2 separate regions of the Homo sapiens genome follow, and region 2 is linked to region 1. The links come from fine-mapping of genetic effects on gene expression. Tissue or cell type: cerebellum. Region 1 holds a variant in brackets; the other region holds the start of a gene. All regions are shown on one strand. Distances are from middle to middle.

Region 1 (8,194 bases):
TACAGATTTGTCAGTTATAATTTTGACTTTTGTAAATTCCTTTTATATGCACCATTCCTGATGTATCCAATAGGATTTTTTGAGGGTTATGTAATTTATTTAAATTTTAAATTTTTATTTTTATGGGTACATAGTAGGTGTATATATTTATGGGGTACATGAAATATTTTCACATAGACATATAATATGTAATAATCACATCAGGGTAGGTGAGTATGCATCTCCTCAAGCATTTATCATTTCTTTATGTTACAGATATTTCAATTATATTGTTTCAGTTATTTTTAAAATATACAATAAATTATTGTTAACTGTAGTCACCCTGTTGTGCCATCAAATACTAAATCGTATTTATTCTATCTGACTGTATTTTTGTACCCATAAACCATCCCCCACCAACTATCCTTCATAGCCTCTAGAAACCATCATTCTACTCTCTCTCTCCATGAGTCAATTTCATTTAATCTTTAGCTACAACAAATAAATGAGAACATGTGAAGTTTGTCTTTCTGTGCCTGGCTTACTTCACTTAACATGATGTCCTCCACTTTCATTCACATTGCTGCAAATGACAAGATCTCATTATTTTTAATGGTGGAACAGTACGCCATTGTGTATATGTACCACATCTTTATCCATTCATTTGTTGATGGACACTTAAATTGCTTCCAAATCGTGGCTATTGTGAATAATGCTGCAATAAACATGGAAGTGCAGATATCTTTTTGATATACTAATTTTTTTTGGGGGGGGGGGTATATACCTAACAGTGGGATTGCTAGGTCATATGATAGCACCATTTTTAGTTTTTTGAGGAATCTCCATACTGTTCTCCATAGTGGCTGTACTAATTTACATTCCCACAAACAGTGTATGAGGGTTCCCATTTCTCCACATCCTTGCCAGCATTCATTATTGCTCATTTTTGGATAAAAACCATTTTAAGTGGGGTGGGATAATATTGTAGTTTTGATTCGTATTACTCTGATAATCATGATGTTGAGCACCTTCTCATAAACCTGTTGGCAATTCATATGTCTTCTTTTGAGAATAAATTTTTAAATCAGATTGTTAGATGTTTTTCCTATAGAGTTGTTTGAGCTCTTTATATATTCTGGTTATTAATCCTTTGTCAGCTGGGTAGTTTGCAAATATTTTCTTCAATTTGGTGGGTTGTCTCTCTCTTTACTTTATTGATTGTTTCCTTTGTTGTGCAGAAGTTTATCAGTTTGATGTAATTCCATTTGTCCATTTTTGCTTAGGTTGCCTGTGCTTGTAGAGTATTGCTCAGGAAACCTTTATCCAGAGCAGTGTCCTAGAGAGCTTTCTCAACATTTCCTTGTAGTAGTTTCATTGTTTGAGGTCTTAGATTTAAGTCTTTAATCAACTTTGATTTGATTTTTGCATGTGGTGAGAGATAAGGGTCTAGTTTCATTCTTCTTATAGATATCCAGTTTTCCCAGCACCACTTATTGAAGAGACTGTTCTTTTCCCAGTGTATGTTCTTGACACCTTTTTTGAAAATGAGTTCCCTGTAGATATGTGAATTTGTTTCTGAGTTCTCTATTCTATTACATTGGCCTATGTATCTATTGTTATGCCAGTACCATGCTTTTTTGGTTACAATAGCTCTATAATGTAATTTCAAGTGAGGTAATTTGATTCTTCCAGTTTTGCTCTTCTTACTGAGGATGGCTTTGGCTATTCTGGGTCTTTTGCCATTCCATATACATTTTAGAATTGTATGTTCTATTTCTGTGAAGAATGTCATTGGTATTTTGATCGGGGTTTTATTGATCTGTAGATTGCTTGGAGTAGTAAAAATATTTTAACAATATTGATTCTTTTGATCCACGAATGTGGAATATTTTTCCTTTTATTGTGTGTCCTTTTCAATTTCTTGTATCAATGTTTTACAGTTTTCATTGTAACCATGTTTTGGTTAAGTTTATTCCTGGGTATCTTATTTGCTTTTTAGCTATTTTAATTAGGATTACTTTCTTCATTTCTTTTTAGGTTGTTTGCTGTTGGCATATATAAATGTTACTGACTTTTGTATGTTCTAATAGTTTTTTTGTTGGAATCTAGGTTTTTCCAAATATAAGATCATATCATCTGAAAATAAGGATAATTTGACTTCTCCTTTGCAATTTGGATGCCCTTTATTTTTGTTGTTGTTGTCTGATTGCCCCAGCTAGGACTTCCAGTACTATGTTGTATAATAACGGTGAAAACTGACATCCTTGTCTTGTTCTTAAAGGAAAGACTTTCAGTTTTTCCCCATTGAGAATTATACTAGCTGTTAGTCTGTTGTATATGGCTTTTATTGTGTTCAGTTATGTTCTTTCTACACCCAGTTTTGTGAGGGTTTTTATCATAAAGGATGTTGGAATTTATGGAATGTTTTTTCAACATCAATTAAAATGATCATATGGGTTTACCCTTCATTCTGTTGATACGATGTATCACATTCATTGATTTGCATATGCTGGTTGGACCATCTGTGGGATATATCCCATTTGATCATAAGGATAATCTTTCTAACATGTTGTTGAATTTAGTTTGCTAGTATTCCTTTGAGGACATTTTCATCAATGTTCATCAGAGCTATTGTCCTGTAATTTTCTTCTTTTCACGTGTCTTTCTCTGGCTTTAGTAATAAGGTAATACTGGCCTCATAGAGTGAGTTTGGAAATATTGTTATCTTTCTCTAGATTTTGAAAGTTCTTTGCTATTATCTATTTTAATAAACTTGCTACCCCAATCTTTCTTTCTACCTCCTTTTTACGACAAGTAACTCTTAGATTTGCCATTTTGTGGCTATTTCCTAGATTTCGTGGGCATGCTTTATTTCTTTTCATTATTTTTTCTTTTGTCTCCTCTGACTATGTATTTTCAAATGGCCTGTCCTCAGTGCTTTCTTCCACTTTATCCATTGTGCTGTTGAGAGACTCTGATGCAGTCTTGAGTTTGTCAATTCAATGTTTCAGCTCCAGAAATTCTCCTTGATATTTTTTAATTATCTCAATCTTTTTGTTAAATTTATCTGATAGAATTCTGAATTCCTTCTCTATGTTATTTTTAATTTCATTGAGCTTCCTCAAAACAGCTATTTTAAAATTCTCTGTCTGAAAAATTACATATCTCTGTCACTCTGGGATTAGTCACTGGTGCCTTATTTAGTTTGTTTAGTGAGGTCACATTTTCCTGGGTAGTCTTGATGCTTGTGAATATTTGTCAATGTTTGGGTATTTATTGTAGTCTCACAGTCTGGATTGTTTGTACTCCTTCTTGGGAAGGCTTTCTAAGTATTCAAAGGGAATTTAGTGTTGTGATCTAAGTCCTTTGTCACTGCAGCCATATCTGCATTAGTGGTTACCCCAAGTCCAGTAACATTGTGATTCTTGCAGACTTGTAGAAGCAGTGTCTTGGTGGTCTTGGGAAAGATCCAAGAAAATGCCCTGGATTACCAGGCAGAAACTTTTTTCTCCCTTATTTCCCTCAAACAAACAGAGTCTGTCTCTCTGTGTGCTGAGCTGCCTCAAGCTGGGGGAGAGGTGACTCAAGTCCCTCTGTGGCCACCATAACTTAGACTGCACTGATTGAGAACTGAAGCCAGCACAACACTGGGTCTCACCCAAGGCCTGTGATGACCACTGACTGGCTCCCATTGGTGTTCTTTCAAGGCCCAAGAGTTTTTCAGGCAGCAGGTG[G/T]TAAATAGGCTTGTGTCCCTCCCTTCAAGTTGGCAAGCTCCCCACTAGCCCGGAGCTGTTCCAGAAATGCCATATGGGAGCCAGGCCCTAGAGTCAGGAAACATAAGAATCTACTCTGTGCTCTATTCTACTGTGGCTAAGCTGGCACTAAAGACACTTGACAAAGTTCTTCTTACTCTTCCCTCTTCTTTCTTCGTGTAGAAGGCCCACAGTGAGTACTGTCTGGCTACTGCTGATGTTCACTCAAGGACCAAGGCCTCTTCAGTCAGCTTGTGGTGAATGCTGCCAGGCTTCGGTCTCTTTCTTCAGGGCAATGTTTCTCTTCTACCTCGGAGCATGTCCAGAAGTGCCATCCAGGAGCCAAGGCCTAGAACTGGGAACTCTAGGATCCTGCTTGGTTCTCTACTCCACTGTGGCTGAGCTGGTGCCCAAGCTGCAAGACAAGTCCCCTTTACTCTTCCCTCTACTTTCCTCAAGCTGAGGAAGTCTCTGTCTGTGGCCACCACAGCTGAGAATGGGCTGGGTTACACCTGAAGCCAACATGGCTCTGGGTCTCACCCAAGAACTGTGTTGAATATGGCCTAGGTACTTCTGATGTTTACTTAAGGCCCAAAGCACTCTTTAGTCAGCAGGTGATGAATCCTGCCAGGACTGGATCCCTCCCTTCAAGGCAGCCGGTTCCCTTCTGGCCCAAGATGTGTCCAGAAAAGTCCAGGAGCTAGAACCCAGAATAAGGTCTCAGGACACCACCCAGTGCCCTGTTCTACTGTAGCTTAGCTGGTATCCAGATTGCAAGGCAATGTACTTTTTAAACTTCCTTTTCCTCTCCTCAAGTAGGAGTCTCTCCCAGAACTATGAGCTGTGCTGCCTGTGGTTGTGGGAGGGGTGATGCAAGCACTCCCTTGGCCACCCCAGCTGGTGTCTCGCTAGGTTGTGTGCACCCCAAATCCACTGGTTCTGAGCCCAGCACAGCAGCAGGACTAGCCCAGGAATTGCAATTCTCGTGGCTTATACTGCCTTTTGAATTTATTTCAAACCCCGGAGCACTTTAGCCCTTTGTGGTGAGTCTAGCTAGAACTCAGGTTCCAACTGCCGGGATGGAATGATTCCCCTTTGGCTAGGGCTGATCTAAGTGCTCCCTTTCTGGGTACTGGCTGAATTCTGCCCTCTGTTGTTTTCCAGTGTGAATTCTGCCCTCTGTTGTTTTCAGTTAGCACTGAATTTCAATGCAAGGTCCCTTAATGTCTGCACTCTCCCTCTTCCAAGGACACAGATTCTCCAGATTCTCTCTGTGTCATGAGGTTGCTGAAGGGGGATGAGGGAAGGTGATCTTGTCAATTCAAGACTGTTTTTCCTACCCTTTCAGTACCTCTTTCCTTGATATGATGTTAAAACCAGGTACTGTGATCTCTCAACCAATTTTTTGTTCTTATAAAGGTGCTTTCTTGTGTAGATAGTTGTTCAGTTTGCTTCTCCTGCAGGGGGAGCGATCGCTGGAAGACTCTGGCCATCTTGCTCCACGTCCCACAAATTTAGAAAAATTAATTATAAGACTTTAATATGAAATATATTATATTTTTAAATAAATATTATATGTTTATATAATGTATGTATTATCTTTATGTGCCCTGCATACATTATATAATCTCCCTCAGTTTGTCATCTACCTTTCAATGTAATGTTTTATTTTAGATACATAGTTTTAAAAATTTCTGCAATCATATCTACTGATTTTTTCTTTTTTATGTATTTGCATTTATTTTTAGAAAAGCTTCTCTCAGATTCAACATCAGATAAATATTAAACTAAGTTATTTTCCTGGTTTTTAATGTTCCCTCTTCCCCAACCCAATCATTTAGTTCTAGATTTTGCCAAACAAAGTTTTTTCTTTCATTTGGAAAAACATCATTACAGTTAAATTGATTTTTGGACCTTACTTTCTCTAACTGATAAGAATGAAAGACTATTTACAAATATTGAAGTAACATAAAATGATCTGTCTCATTTATTTTTTCCCACTGTCTCTCACTTACCAATTTTTAACATTTAATCTGGACACTGTATTTACATCATTTTGCTTAAAACTTTTTTATATCATTTCTCTTATTCTGGTAATAGATGTAGTTACTTTGCTGGGCTTTACAATTTTCTTACCAACTGAAATTCCTTTTTATCATGCTTTTACCTGTTAATTTTGGTTTTTGTCTTGGTTTGCTGGAATATATATAGCTAAAAGCCTTTAGTTACTGGTGAAGCAGGATATTTTCCTGACCCCTTCATGGGACTCACAACAAGGTTGCCTCATTAACTCAACCCACAGCTTTCAACTCCTTGTGGGAGGGAGTGCATCAGTGAACAAGGTGGGAACTGGAGTGCATGAGTGCTGGAACCAGCTGGTTGCCTTGGCACTGGCAGGGGTGAACTCTGCTCACTTGGACCTGCTGCGTTTCATCCCTTGTGGGAGGGAGCATGCAGGTGAGAGAGTGCAGGAGCTGGGGCAAGCACTTTTGGGTGCTGGCAGGAACGAACAGCACACAGGCCCCACAGAAGCATCAAGGGGGTGTCCCCACAACCCCTGAAGCCCCAGAGGGAGTGTTACCATGCTCTTTTAGCTCTAGCATCTATGATGGCTTAAGTGTTAACAGCTCAGTGGGCTCTCTGCATTTTTGGCAAAGGGTCAATGTGACAGCCTTTTGTATCCACACTCATGGCTCCCAAGCTCTTGTTCAATGTCCAGGAGAAATGAGGTCAGACGAATAAAGTGAAGGACAGTAAATGCAGGGGATTTTATTGCTAGTGAAAGTGGCTGTCAGCAGGAAGGGGAACTGAAAAGGAAAAGGGGCAGTAAGGTAATGTTCCCCTGAAGTCCAGCCATCTCCAGCCAGATTCTTTTCTGAAGTTACATCACCAAGCTGTCTGTCTGAAGTCAAGCTGCTTCTCTCCAACATCCAGTCATAGTCTCTAATGTCCAGCTGCTTTTCCCTACTCTGCCAGCTGAACCTGGGGTTTTTATGGGCACAGGATGGGGGGCAGGGTGGACCATGCATTGTTTTGAAAAAGGCAACATTGGAGCAGGAAAACACGGATATAAGTTCTCACTTTGTGCCATGGTCTCAGGCTTTGTGGCTTGAGGGTGGGACTTCACCAGGGACCTGCCCTTTTCTGCTTAGAATTTCTCTGCCTCCTGTCCCTATCAACAGTGGTCTGTATTTCCTTGTCTGAGATTATTTTCAGTCTTTGGGATACCACCTTTTCCATAACTCAGACCACTACAGAATCATAGGTTTTAGGGTGTATTTATTTCAGTGCATTTGTTTGCTATAAATGTAGTTCACATGTATTTACTAGGTAAGGATATGTTAGAATTTATTTTTTATAGTTTGCAATAGCATTTATTATGAAATAGAAATAATATGTTTTCACCCTGTTATTTAACCAGTTTTAATTTTGATAATTAACTGAATAGGGAAGAAGTATTTTAAAATTATGGCATATTCAGTGCAAACACAACAAATGATAAGGGATTCTTGAGTGAAAACATTGTACTGGAGTACATATAACTCCTTTTTATTTTATAGTATTTTTATAAGAACTAGACAAAGCTTTCTATTTTCTTTCTATTCCCTTTTCTTGTAATCACTGACATGTTCATTATCTATGTATTTACAGATTATGTTTAAATATGCATCCACATTTCCAAATTTTTCTGATCTTTGGGCGTGCTCTCCCTCCCCAGATTTTCCATCGACATTTTCACTTATATGTTGTGTTACTTCATAATCAACATTTAAAAACTGAATTTGTGGTCTTTCTTGGCAGATGCTGTCTTCTGACTACCCTAAATCTCTTAATGTACTGCCTACAATGACTTCCAGCATATTTATGAACAGGTTTGATTTGAATGTTTTGTCTGACCAGTGCAGAGTACTTCTCTTCCCACTGATGCATACACATTCCTTCCTAGGTTATATGTAAAAACTTACATGTGAGTAGAGTGTAGTATAGCTGATTTAATTAACAGCACAACAAACTTGTATTCCTCCCTACTTTTTGCTTCTAAAACAGTGTTTCCTCTTTTGAAATAAGAGTAACTAAGTTTTTTAATATTTATATTTCCTAGTATATGTCGAGTTCAAGGGTAGGGTCCATATTTATCTGGTTTACTATTGAGCATATAATGCAGCATCTTAAAATCACAGACACTTCCTATTCTTCTAAGAATGGCTTATGACTGTTTTTAAAATGCAATATACATTATAAAGCTAAATCTCAAACTCTTCACCTTATTCATCAATATTTCAATTAAAAAGTATGGATGTTTCCAAAATTTTTGCTTTGGAATACACCAATGATATTTACATAGCATCTTGACTTTTCTATTTTTATTAAGAGAGTTGTATAGTTTAAATATATTGTTAATGAATTCTACACAGATTCATGTAATATCTTTCCTGTGCACTCTACCAGTATTTTGAGTTTGG
Region 2 (8,194 bases), 260 kb before region 1:
CAGCTTTTAGGGTCTAATCCAAACCTTTTCTTTGTCCTTCATTAGACTCATGGGAACAAGAGAGTGTTAACCTGGCCTCTCATTGGTTGCCTGGACCATTAGATGTAAAGTTACAGATCAGTGTTGGCTATGTTTTAGGGCAGGTTACATGAACCAGATAAGGAAAGACAGCCAATCTGCAGAGAGAAGATGATGCAAAAAGAGTAGAAACGAATAATGAAAAAATATGATATAGGGAGTCTTGAGGAGGTTGAAGGTTCTATTACTCTCTATTCTATGGACACATCAATAAAGGCGTCAGGTAAATTATTCTTCTGTTACCTTGGGCACATTTTAGAACAAGTGAGACTCAACCTAACAGCAGTAGCAAAAGAGGAGAAAGAAATCACCTGAACTAGACTGTATATACTTAGCTAGGGAAGGCACCACATTTAATTGTCCTGTGGACTCCTTTATGCCTGGTGCAAAAGTAGATGCTTAGTAAATACCTCCTGGGTGAATGAATGAGTATTTCATATGTAAGGGAAGTGATGGAAATTGTTGGAGTGGTATATGGATTACCTCTGTTCCATCAAGAGGCATATCAAGAACAAATATTTGAAACCTATAGAGAGACAATGTAGTATAACGGTTAAAGGAATGTGTGCTGGAGCCGGACTCAAACTGCATACCAGCTTCAGCACTTGCCAGGGATGTGATCTTAGGCAGGTAGGTAACCGCTCAGTGCCTCAATTTCCTCATTTGTGAAACAGGAATAATATTTACCTTAAATAATCTTTGTGAAGATTATATGAGCTAAAAATTAATATGTAAAGTAGAACAGTGCCTGGTACAAGGTAACTATTCTATGAGTAAAAACTGTAACATCTCTACTTAGCAGAAATCTAGACAATAGTACTTATCACCAAGTTAAATTTTGTATTATTCACTGATGTTTTCTCATCTATCTTCGTCCTGGCCTCCAGATCAATTTCTAAAATGTTGAACAAACAGGATAAAAAAGGGTCTCTGGAATCCTCATTTTTCAGGTGAAGAAACCAAGCCCCAGAGCCAGCAAGGGAGCTGTTCAAGGCCACTCCTGTCTTGGCAGAGCCAGTCCTAGAATTTAGGTCTACTTTCATGTTATTTTCAAATATTTTAATGAAAAAAAAAATTCAGCAATGAAACACATGTAAAATGGATACCCATAATTGAGATGCTTAAAGGTTTTAGGATAGGACTGCAATAATTGATTTTTAAGCTCTTATTTGGCAACAGGTAATCAAGAATTATAGCCCTCAGTAATTTGTAGAAGATTTGGGGAAATAATTTCTTATAGACATTAATTAATTGTAGTAGGTCCTGACTACTTTTTTTTTCTTGTCCTGTAACTTACATGAAATCGATGAAAATGTTTAGAGTAACATGAAAGAATAAATCACTCACTGTGATATCCAGGTATCTAAGAGTATAGTTTTTTACTATAAACAAACAGACAAACCAAGAAATATTAAAATCACCCCTTTACGAGAAACTTCAGTCATGAAATAGTTTTGAGGATTGTTCAGACTAATTATCTTTATAATGTAGGTCGTTACTTTTGTGGCCTGGCAGCATTCCTAATCTGGACAGGTGTTCAGAGTTCATGCATTTCAGTGTGAATGCTCATTTATAATAGACACAGCACAGGGAAAGTAAACTTCTACTGTTTTCCCTTACTGTCAGAACTGTTAAGCAATTAGAAATTCAAGGCATTCATTTAGTTGAGAATAGTGTTTTTATCCTTAATTCAATTTCCCTGATTTTATAGTGTATATAAATCACAAAGTATTTACATATAGTTTAAAAAAATATATTTTGCATCTTAACAAATGCACTTTTAAGGCTCTAATCACCAAAAAGCAGCTGAAACTCAATCAGGTTTCAAGGAAGTCATATAATCAGAGTCCCAAGATTAAAAGAAAAAAAATTGTAATTTCTTTACAGTTTTAAAATTTTGAAATGACAGGTAGACAATTACATATTTACATTTTAGCTTATAATAACTTCTTTAGCAGAATATATGGTTTAGAAAAAGAATCTCCAATGCCTGATTATCTCTTCTACTATATATTTTTTAACAAACTTTTCAGTTACACCAAAAATTAATATTTGCCTCAATGTTCAGAAATAATGCTTTTCTCAAGAAAATTAATTTAAAAAGAGGGTATATATAACTCCACCAAACTAAACTATAACAAATATCTCCAGAAAGAGATAAAAGTTTTATTTTATCTAAAACATTTTAGTAATGTAAGAATTCTTCATTTTAAAGACTATGAAGAAAATTAACTCATGTGACAAGCTCAAAATTAACATTATTTACACAAAGAAACAAATCTTCTGTTTTACCATCAAGATGATAAAGAAAAATGATAACAAAATTAGAAATGGTAGATACTGTGTTAACCAGAGAAAGAAAAAAAAGAGCTTATCTTAGGCAAGCCTCTTTATATGTTCAGTACTATTTTAAAAAGGAGCCTCCTTCAAACTTATATTTGAAATCTCCATCTTAAATATAATATTGATAGGAAGGTATGGATGAAGAAAAAGGGAAAAAAATTCCCTTCAGCTGAATATCGGATATTCTAGAGTTTCTCTGCCATATCATCCTGCTCTCTGGTGGTGAACAGCATTGCTCAGTAGTTGATAACATGAAATTTTCTAAGGGCAAAAAAAAAAAACAAAAAAAAAGTGTGTGTCCCAGATCAGTTGCACACATCTCAATATTTGATTTGTATTTTAATTTAATACAAATGTATTAAGAATGTAGCTGTTTGCATTGTCTAGAAGGGTTTTCTTCTAAACTCTTCCAGATTACATGTTGCTATATTTCAATATGTTTATAAAGAATATAGATACTAATACATTTTCGACATTAAATAACTCTGATGCTTAAACAGTATCCAGCTATTAGAAAAACTATTTGAAAAAGGATCTGAGTAAACCCCTTAAAGATGTAACTTTGCTTTTACCTGCCCCCACAAAATGGATATATTAAATAGAAGATATATCTGTTTTCTTTAAATTTAAAGTTTCTGTATTTGATACCTAGATTGATTCTTTCCATTTCCATTTAATTTTATTAATTGTATAGTTTTAAATAATGTCTATAAACTGCATCAAATAGAAAGCCTTTTGAGGATCATTACTGTGTAGATAGGCAGGTAGTTTAAAGTCTCTGATATTCCTTACAAAATTCTGTCAAGGCAACAGACATGTGTTCTGTTAAACAGATCTACTTCAGAATCATTATAAGTTGGTGAATATCTTAAACAATTACAAGAGGTCATTTCTTTAGTACCATAATCTTATGAAAGGGAAGCTTTAAAATCATCCCTGAATGAGACGGTCCTTTGTTTCACTTAATTTAATCAAAATACTCTATATTTCTTCTTCAAGAATAAAATGAAGCACTTGTTCAATCTTGAAATTTTTAGATTATTTGAAAGCAAAGTTGTTATCTCTTAAAAGCCCCTACATTTATGAGTGAGGCATTAATGCACAGTATAAATAAATAAATACACTTACCTGGAATTAAAGTTCAGAGCTGAAAATGCTTGAGAAAGTTGCAATAGATGGAAAAGAAACGGAAACAGTACCACTCGTTACCATCGGCTCAGGCTTTTTGACTTTACAAGTGGTAGCAACACCAGTCCTGGCCCAGTACTCTCATGTTATGTAACATCTTATTAATATTAGCCATCAAACTGCTACCAAGCTGGTGAGGCACTAGAGGGCAAGAGTGTCACATGCAAGACCCGTCGCCAAGGGACCGGCTTTGGTACCACTTCGGGGGAAGACAGATGCTAACTAAGCTGATGAATAACAGGATGCCCGAATACAACAGCAAACTTGTAACGTTCCTCAAAGAATATTTTACATGTCAATTTTCTGACTAGCGGAAGAGTTAACAGGTTAATAAATATGAGCAAGCAAATAACCACACCATGAAAAACTTTTAGGATTATATTTACAAACCCACAGTCACTCAAGAGGCTGTTTGTTTTTTTCTTTCCATTGTCTAAATAAACTTATTTAAAACAGGAGAAAAAAGCTGGTTAAATAAAACGAGTGTCGGTTTCAGGACTCCCTCATTCCAAGCCGCGAGAAACTTGTCTGGTCGAGATGCCGCCTCTGGAGTCCGCATTCCAAGGCGCCCGGATCGGGTTTCTGGGCGAGGAGACCGGCCCCGTCCTCCATGGAGATTACCTGGGGCTGCAGCCGTCCGCGGGCTCCTCCTTCCCTCGGGTCTTCGGCCTCAGCCGCTCCCCAGGGCCCCTCGTCCGGGTGGCGCTTGGGTGCTACGCGGTGCCCGGGGTCCGGCGGGGGCGACAAGCGGGCGACCTCTCCCCTCCGCGCCCGGGATCTGCGCGGACACAGCTGGTGGCGACTTCGGCCGCTCAGGCTGCGGCTGCGGGGCGAGCGCAGCGGGTGCGCCGGGGACTCCTGCGCTGGAGAACCACGGCCCTGGGACCCGCCCGGCCGCGCCTCCGCCGCCCTCGCCACCGCCTCCCGGGCGGGAGCCGCCGCCTCCCAGCTCCCGGCCCGCGCGCGCCCGCCCCGGGGAAGGGGAGGGAGCGGGAGCTGAGGACGGGAGCCGCCTCCATCGACCGGGCTCCCGCCCGGACCGGCCCTGAGGATCTGGCTGCCCGGGCCTCGACAAGGAGACCCCGGGGGTTCCGCCCCGGCCTGCCAGTTCCGACCGCCCCTCCCGGCGGGTTGGCGGCGGCCGCCAAGGATGAAACGTCTTGTGCGGCCAGGGAAAGGGGTGCGAGTCCCCGAGGCGACGCTGGAAGGGTGGGGCGCACCCGCGCGGTCCCTTCCTGTGGTGCTCCTGCCGTTGGCACTGGACCAGGGCGGCTGCGAGGCTGCAAGAGTTTCCTCTGTTCGCCAGTTTTTTTCAAATGCCATGTGTTTCAGCTCCTGAAGACAAGTGGAAGGCCAGCAACTGAAGAGATATTTTGGATTCAAGGTGTGAGGTTACCCTCTCCAGAACTATAGTTTGATTAGAAGTGTGAATCGAATGATATATATTTTTAAAAATTTCATTTGGTTCCACTAACATGTGAATTGTATTAAGTGGGGTCTACTAATGATACTTTGTATTGGCCATTTGTGGTTTTGCTTCCCAGCACTCACTCTTGTTGAAACAGTACTCCTGTTCATTTTGGAAGATCCAACCACTTGATCTCACCCCGCAGCCCATTTGCTTTAGGTGATGTCAGCCGCTGCTGACTCACTGGTAGACCCACAGCTCAGGTCTGGCCAGTGATGGCTTTCTGTCCTGGTAGCATGGGTAGGTATGTAACCCAGGTCTGGCCAATCAGAGAGAAAAACAGAAAAAAACCACCATTCTGGGACTTTTTTTTTTCCTTCCTCTCTTAAGAAAGTGGACTCTCTTCTACTGGACTTTGCATAATGAAGATGTGAGCTTAGAGCTTGAAGTCTGAAAATAAAGCTGATACTCAGGAAGGCAGAACTGAGAGTTGGAGAAAAGTGAAACCCAGATGGAGATTTTCGAGCTTGGAATCGAGCTGTAGCTGAAATAAGTTCTATCTCTGGATATTTTCATTCATAAACAAATACATTCACTTTTTTTTTTGATTCGGAGTCGCGCTCTGTCGCCCAGGCTGGAGTGCAGTGGCGTGATCTCAGCTCACTGCAAGCTACGTCTCCCGGGTTCCCACCATTCTCCTGCCTCAGCCTCCCGAGTAGCTGGGACTATAGGAGCCCGCCACCAGGCCCGGATAATTTTTTGTATTTTGGTAGAGACGGGGTTTCACCGTGTAAGCCAGGATGGTCTCGATTTACTGACCTCGAGATCCGCCCACCTCGGCATCCCAAAGTGCTGGGATTACAGACTTGAGCCACCGCGACTGGCCACATTCACTTTTGTCTTAAGGCAGCTTGGACTGCATTTGCTGTCCCTTGAAACTGAAAGAGACACAAACGATGATACAGTAATTAAATATTCTGGTTGTTTATTAACTTTATCAGGGTATTTGGATTCGTAGTTCAAGACCTTCAATTAGAACCCAATGTCCTGAAAGGGTTAGTTGGAATTGTGTTTTAAAATCAGGAAGTTATATATCCTTTTTGTTCTATGTGATGGAGGGGTTACAGATGTGACTGAACCAATTGCTCCTTCTGGAAGCCCACAAAAATGTCAGGATGCTAGAATTCTTTGGCCAAGTAACATGTATTAGATTGGTTTTATTTATTTTTTAGTTGGAGTGTTCCCTGGAAGTCTTGTGCCTTTTAAGAATTTTAAGAACCCACATTTATTTTTCTATGTACTCCTTACCCAAGAGAGAGCCTGCTCTGTCTTCCGAGCAGCCATGCATTCATCATTTTAGTAATCAAAAAAATTATTGAACACCTACTAAATGGCTCTGGGAATACAATAATATTGAAAAAAGAAAAGCAGGACCACTCTCTGCCCTTCAGTCGCTTATATTGATATAGCTGTAGGAGGTCAGGCTCTTCTACAAGATTTCAGAGAATAGACAAGATTCATGAATTCATAAATTCCTAAATGTTTCAGGGAATGTAGGCAGATTCAGAAATGATATTCACTTTTTCTTTTCTTTTTCTACCTCCTCTGCACAAAAACACAAAACCAGAAAAACTTCTTCTACAAAATAAGATACTTACTATTCTTATGACTGTATTTTGGGGTTTTCTTCAGCTAAGATGGATAGGAGACATAATCAAATTTCTCATTGTTTTTGGGAGAGTTGTTACCTTTACCAGCTACTGCTCCTTCCAACCATCCATCTGGAATTACAAACAGCTTAGGATCATGCTGTCTTTTCCTATGAGATCCTCAAATCTTACACCTCTATTAGAGAAGTCCTCATCTGCACACATATGTCGTCTAAGCCAGTGTAATAGCAGATTGATATGTTGCCTATATTTCCTTTCACTCCTGGGCTGCGTGCCCAGCAGAGAGGTAAGAAGGGACAGACATCAGGGCCAACCATTGCCCCCTGTAGCCCTCCCTTCCAATCTTCTGTTCCTAACCCAGGGACATTAAGGCCAGCGAAAAATTTTCCTCCAGAGAGGTATTCCTATTTAGTCTAACACTGTGGCAGTGCCCAAGTAGAGGTGGAGAAGGCCATCTGATTCAGGGCCAGACATTTGTGAAGCACTTCAAATAGAGTCATCTCCAAATGAACTTGTGCAATACATATATGTATATATATATATATATATATATATTCTTTTTTTTTTTTTTTTTTGAGATGGAGTCTTACTCTGTTGCCCAGGCTGGAGTGCAGTGATACGATCTTGGCTCACTGCAATGTCTGCCTCCCAGGTTCAAGCGATTCTCCTGTCTCAGCCTCCCAAGTAGCTGGGATTACAGGCACATGCCACCATGTCCAGCTAATTTTTTCTATTTTAGTAGAGACGGGGTTTCACAGTGTTTCCCAGCTTGGTCTCTAACTCCTGAGCTCAGGTAATCCACCTGCATCAGCCTCCCAAAGTGTTAGGATTACAGGCGTGAGCCACCGTGCCCGGACTGAACTTGTGCAATATTTTTTTAATAGGATCAATTGATTATGTTTAGTTTAACCTTTTGGGATATACTACAGTTTTTGTAACCACCTTTGGCATTTCTGTTATTACTATTTACATAAATACTGAGAATCTCAAAAAATGGAAGAGGCTCAACTATTGCTAAACTCTGAGAAGCCTTGAAACAATATGAAATATTTTTATTAGCATCCCAGCTTCAGACACAAAAGGAAGCATCTGCTTGTAAATTACATCCCTATAGAAATCATTAAAAAGGGGTGGGCGTGGTGGCTTACGCCTGTAATCCTAGCACTTTGGGAGGCCGACGCAGGCGGATCACCTGAGGTCAGGAGTTCAAGACCAGTCTGGCCAACATAGTAAAACCCTGTCTCTACTAAAATACCAAAATCAGCCAGGCATGATGGCGGTGCCCGTAATCCCAGCTACTCGGAAGGCTGAGACGGGAGAATAGCTTGAACCCGGGAGATGGTGATTACAGTGAGCCGAGATTGTGCCACTGCACTCCAGCTTGGGCAGCTGAGCTAGACTCCATCTCAAAAAAAATAAAAAAAAAAAAAAAAGAAGATAAAAGAAAAGAAAAAAGAAATCATTAAAAAGAAGAAAAAAGAGTAAAACTTGTACTTTTAATATTGAA

Direction of the effects. Alleles are on the strand shown, and positions count from the first base shown. SD is a standard deviation of normalised expression in the study named.
As copies of T replace G in region 1, the expression in cerebellum of the gene that starts at base 3,656 in region 2 goes up (large effect, 1.0 SD a copy in GTEx).

What was found. PIP is the estimated chance that this variant, and not a neighbour inherited with it, causes the effect.
Region 2: it holds the start of NDST3, and the variant in region 1 is fine-mapped to the expression of NDST3 in cerebellum (GTEx, PIP above 0.99). The same link has a PIP of 0.9 or more in cerebellar hemisphere.

Annotation. Positions count from the first base shown.
Region 1 is chr4:117,768,823-117,777,016 of GRCh38, reverse strand. No RefSeq gene overlaps it. Among named protein-coding and RNA genes, the nearest start is that of LINC02264, 61 kb to the left of the region's middle. RefSeq lists an enhancer at 3,657-4,157. The variant G/T (reference allele first, on the strand shown) is at 3,714.
Region 2 is chr4:118,029,948-118,038,141 of GRCh38, reverse strand. NDST3 (N-deacetylase and N-sulfotransferase 3) reads right to left here and starts at 3,656. Exons shown (of 14, transcript NM_004784.3): 1 at 3,550-3,656.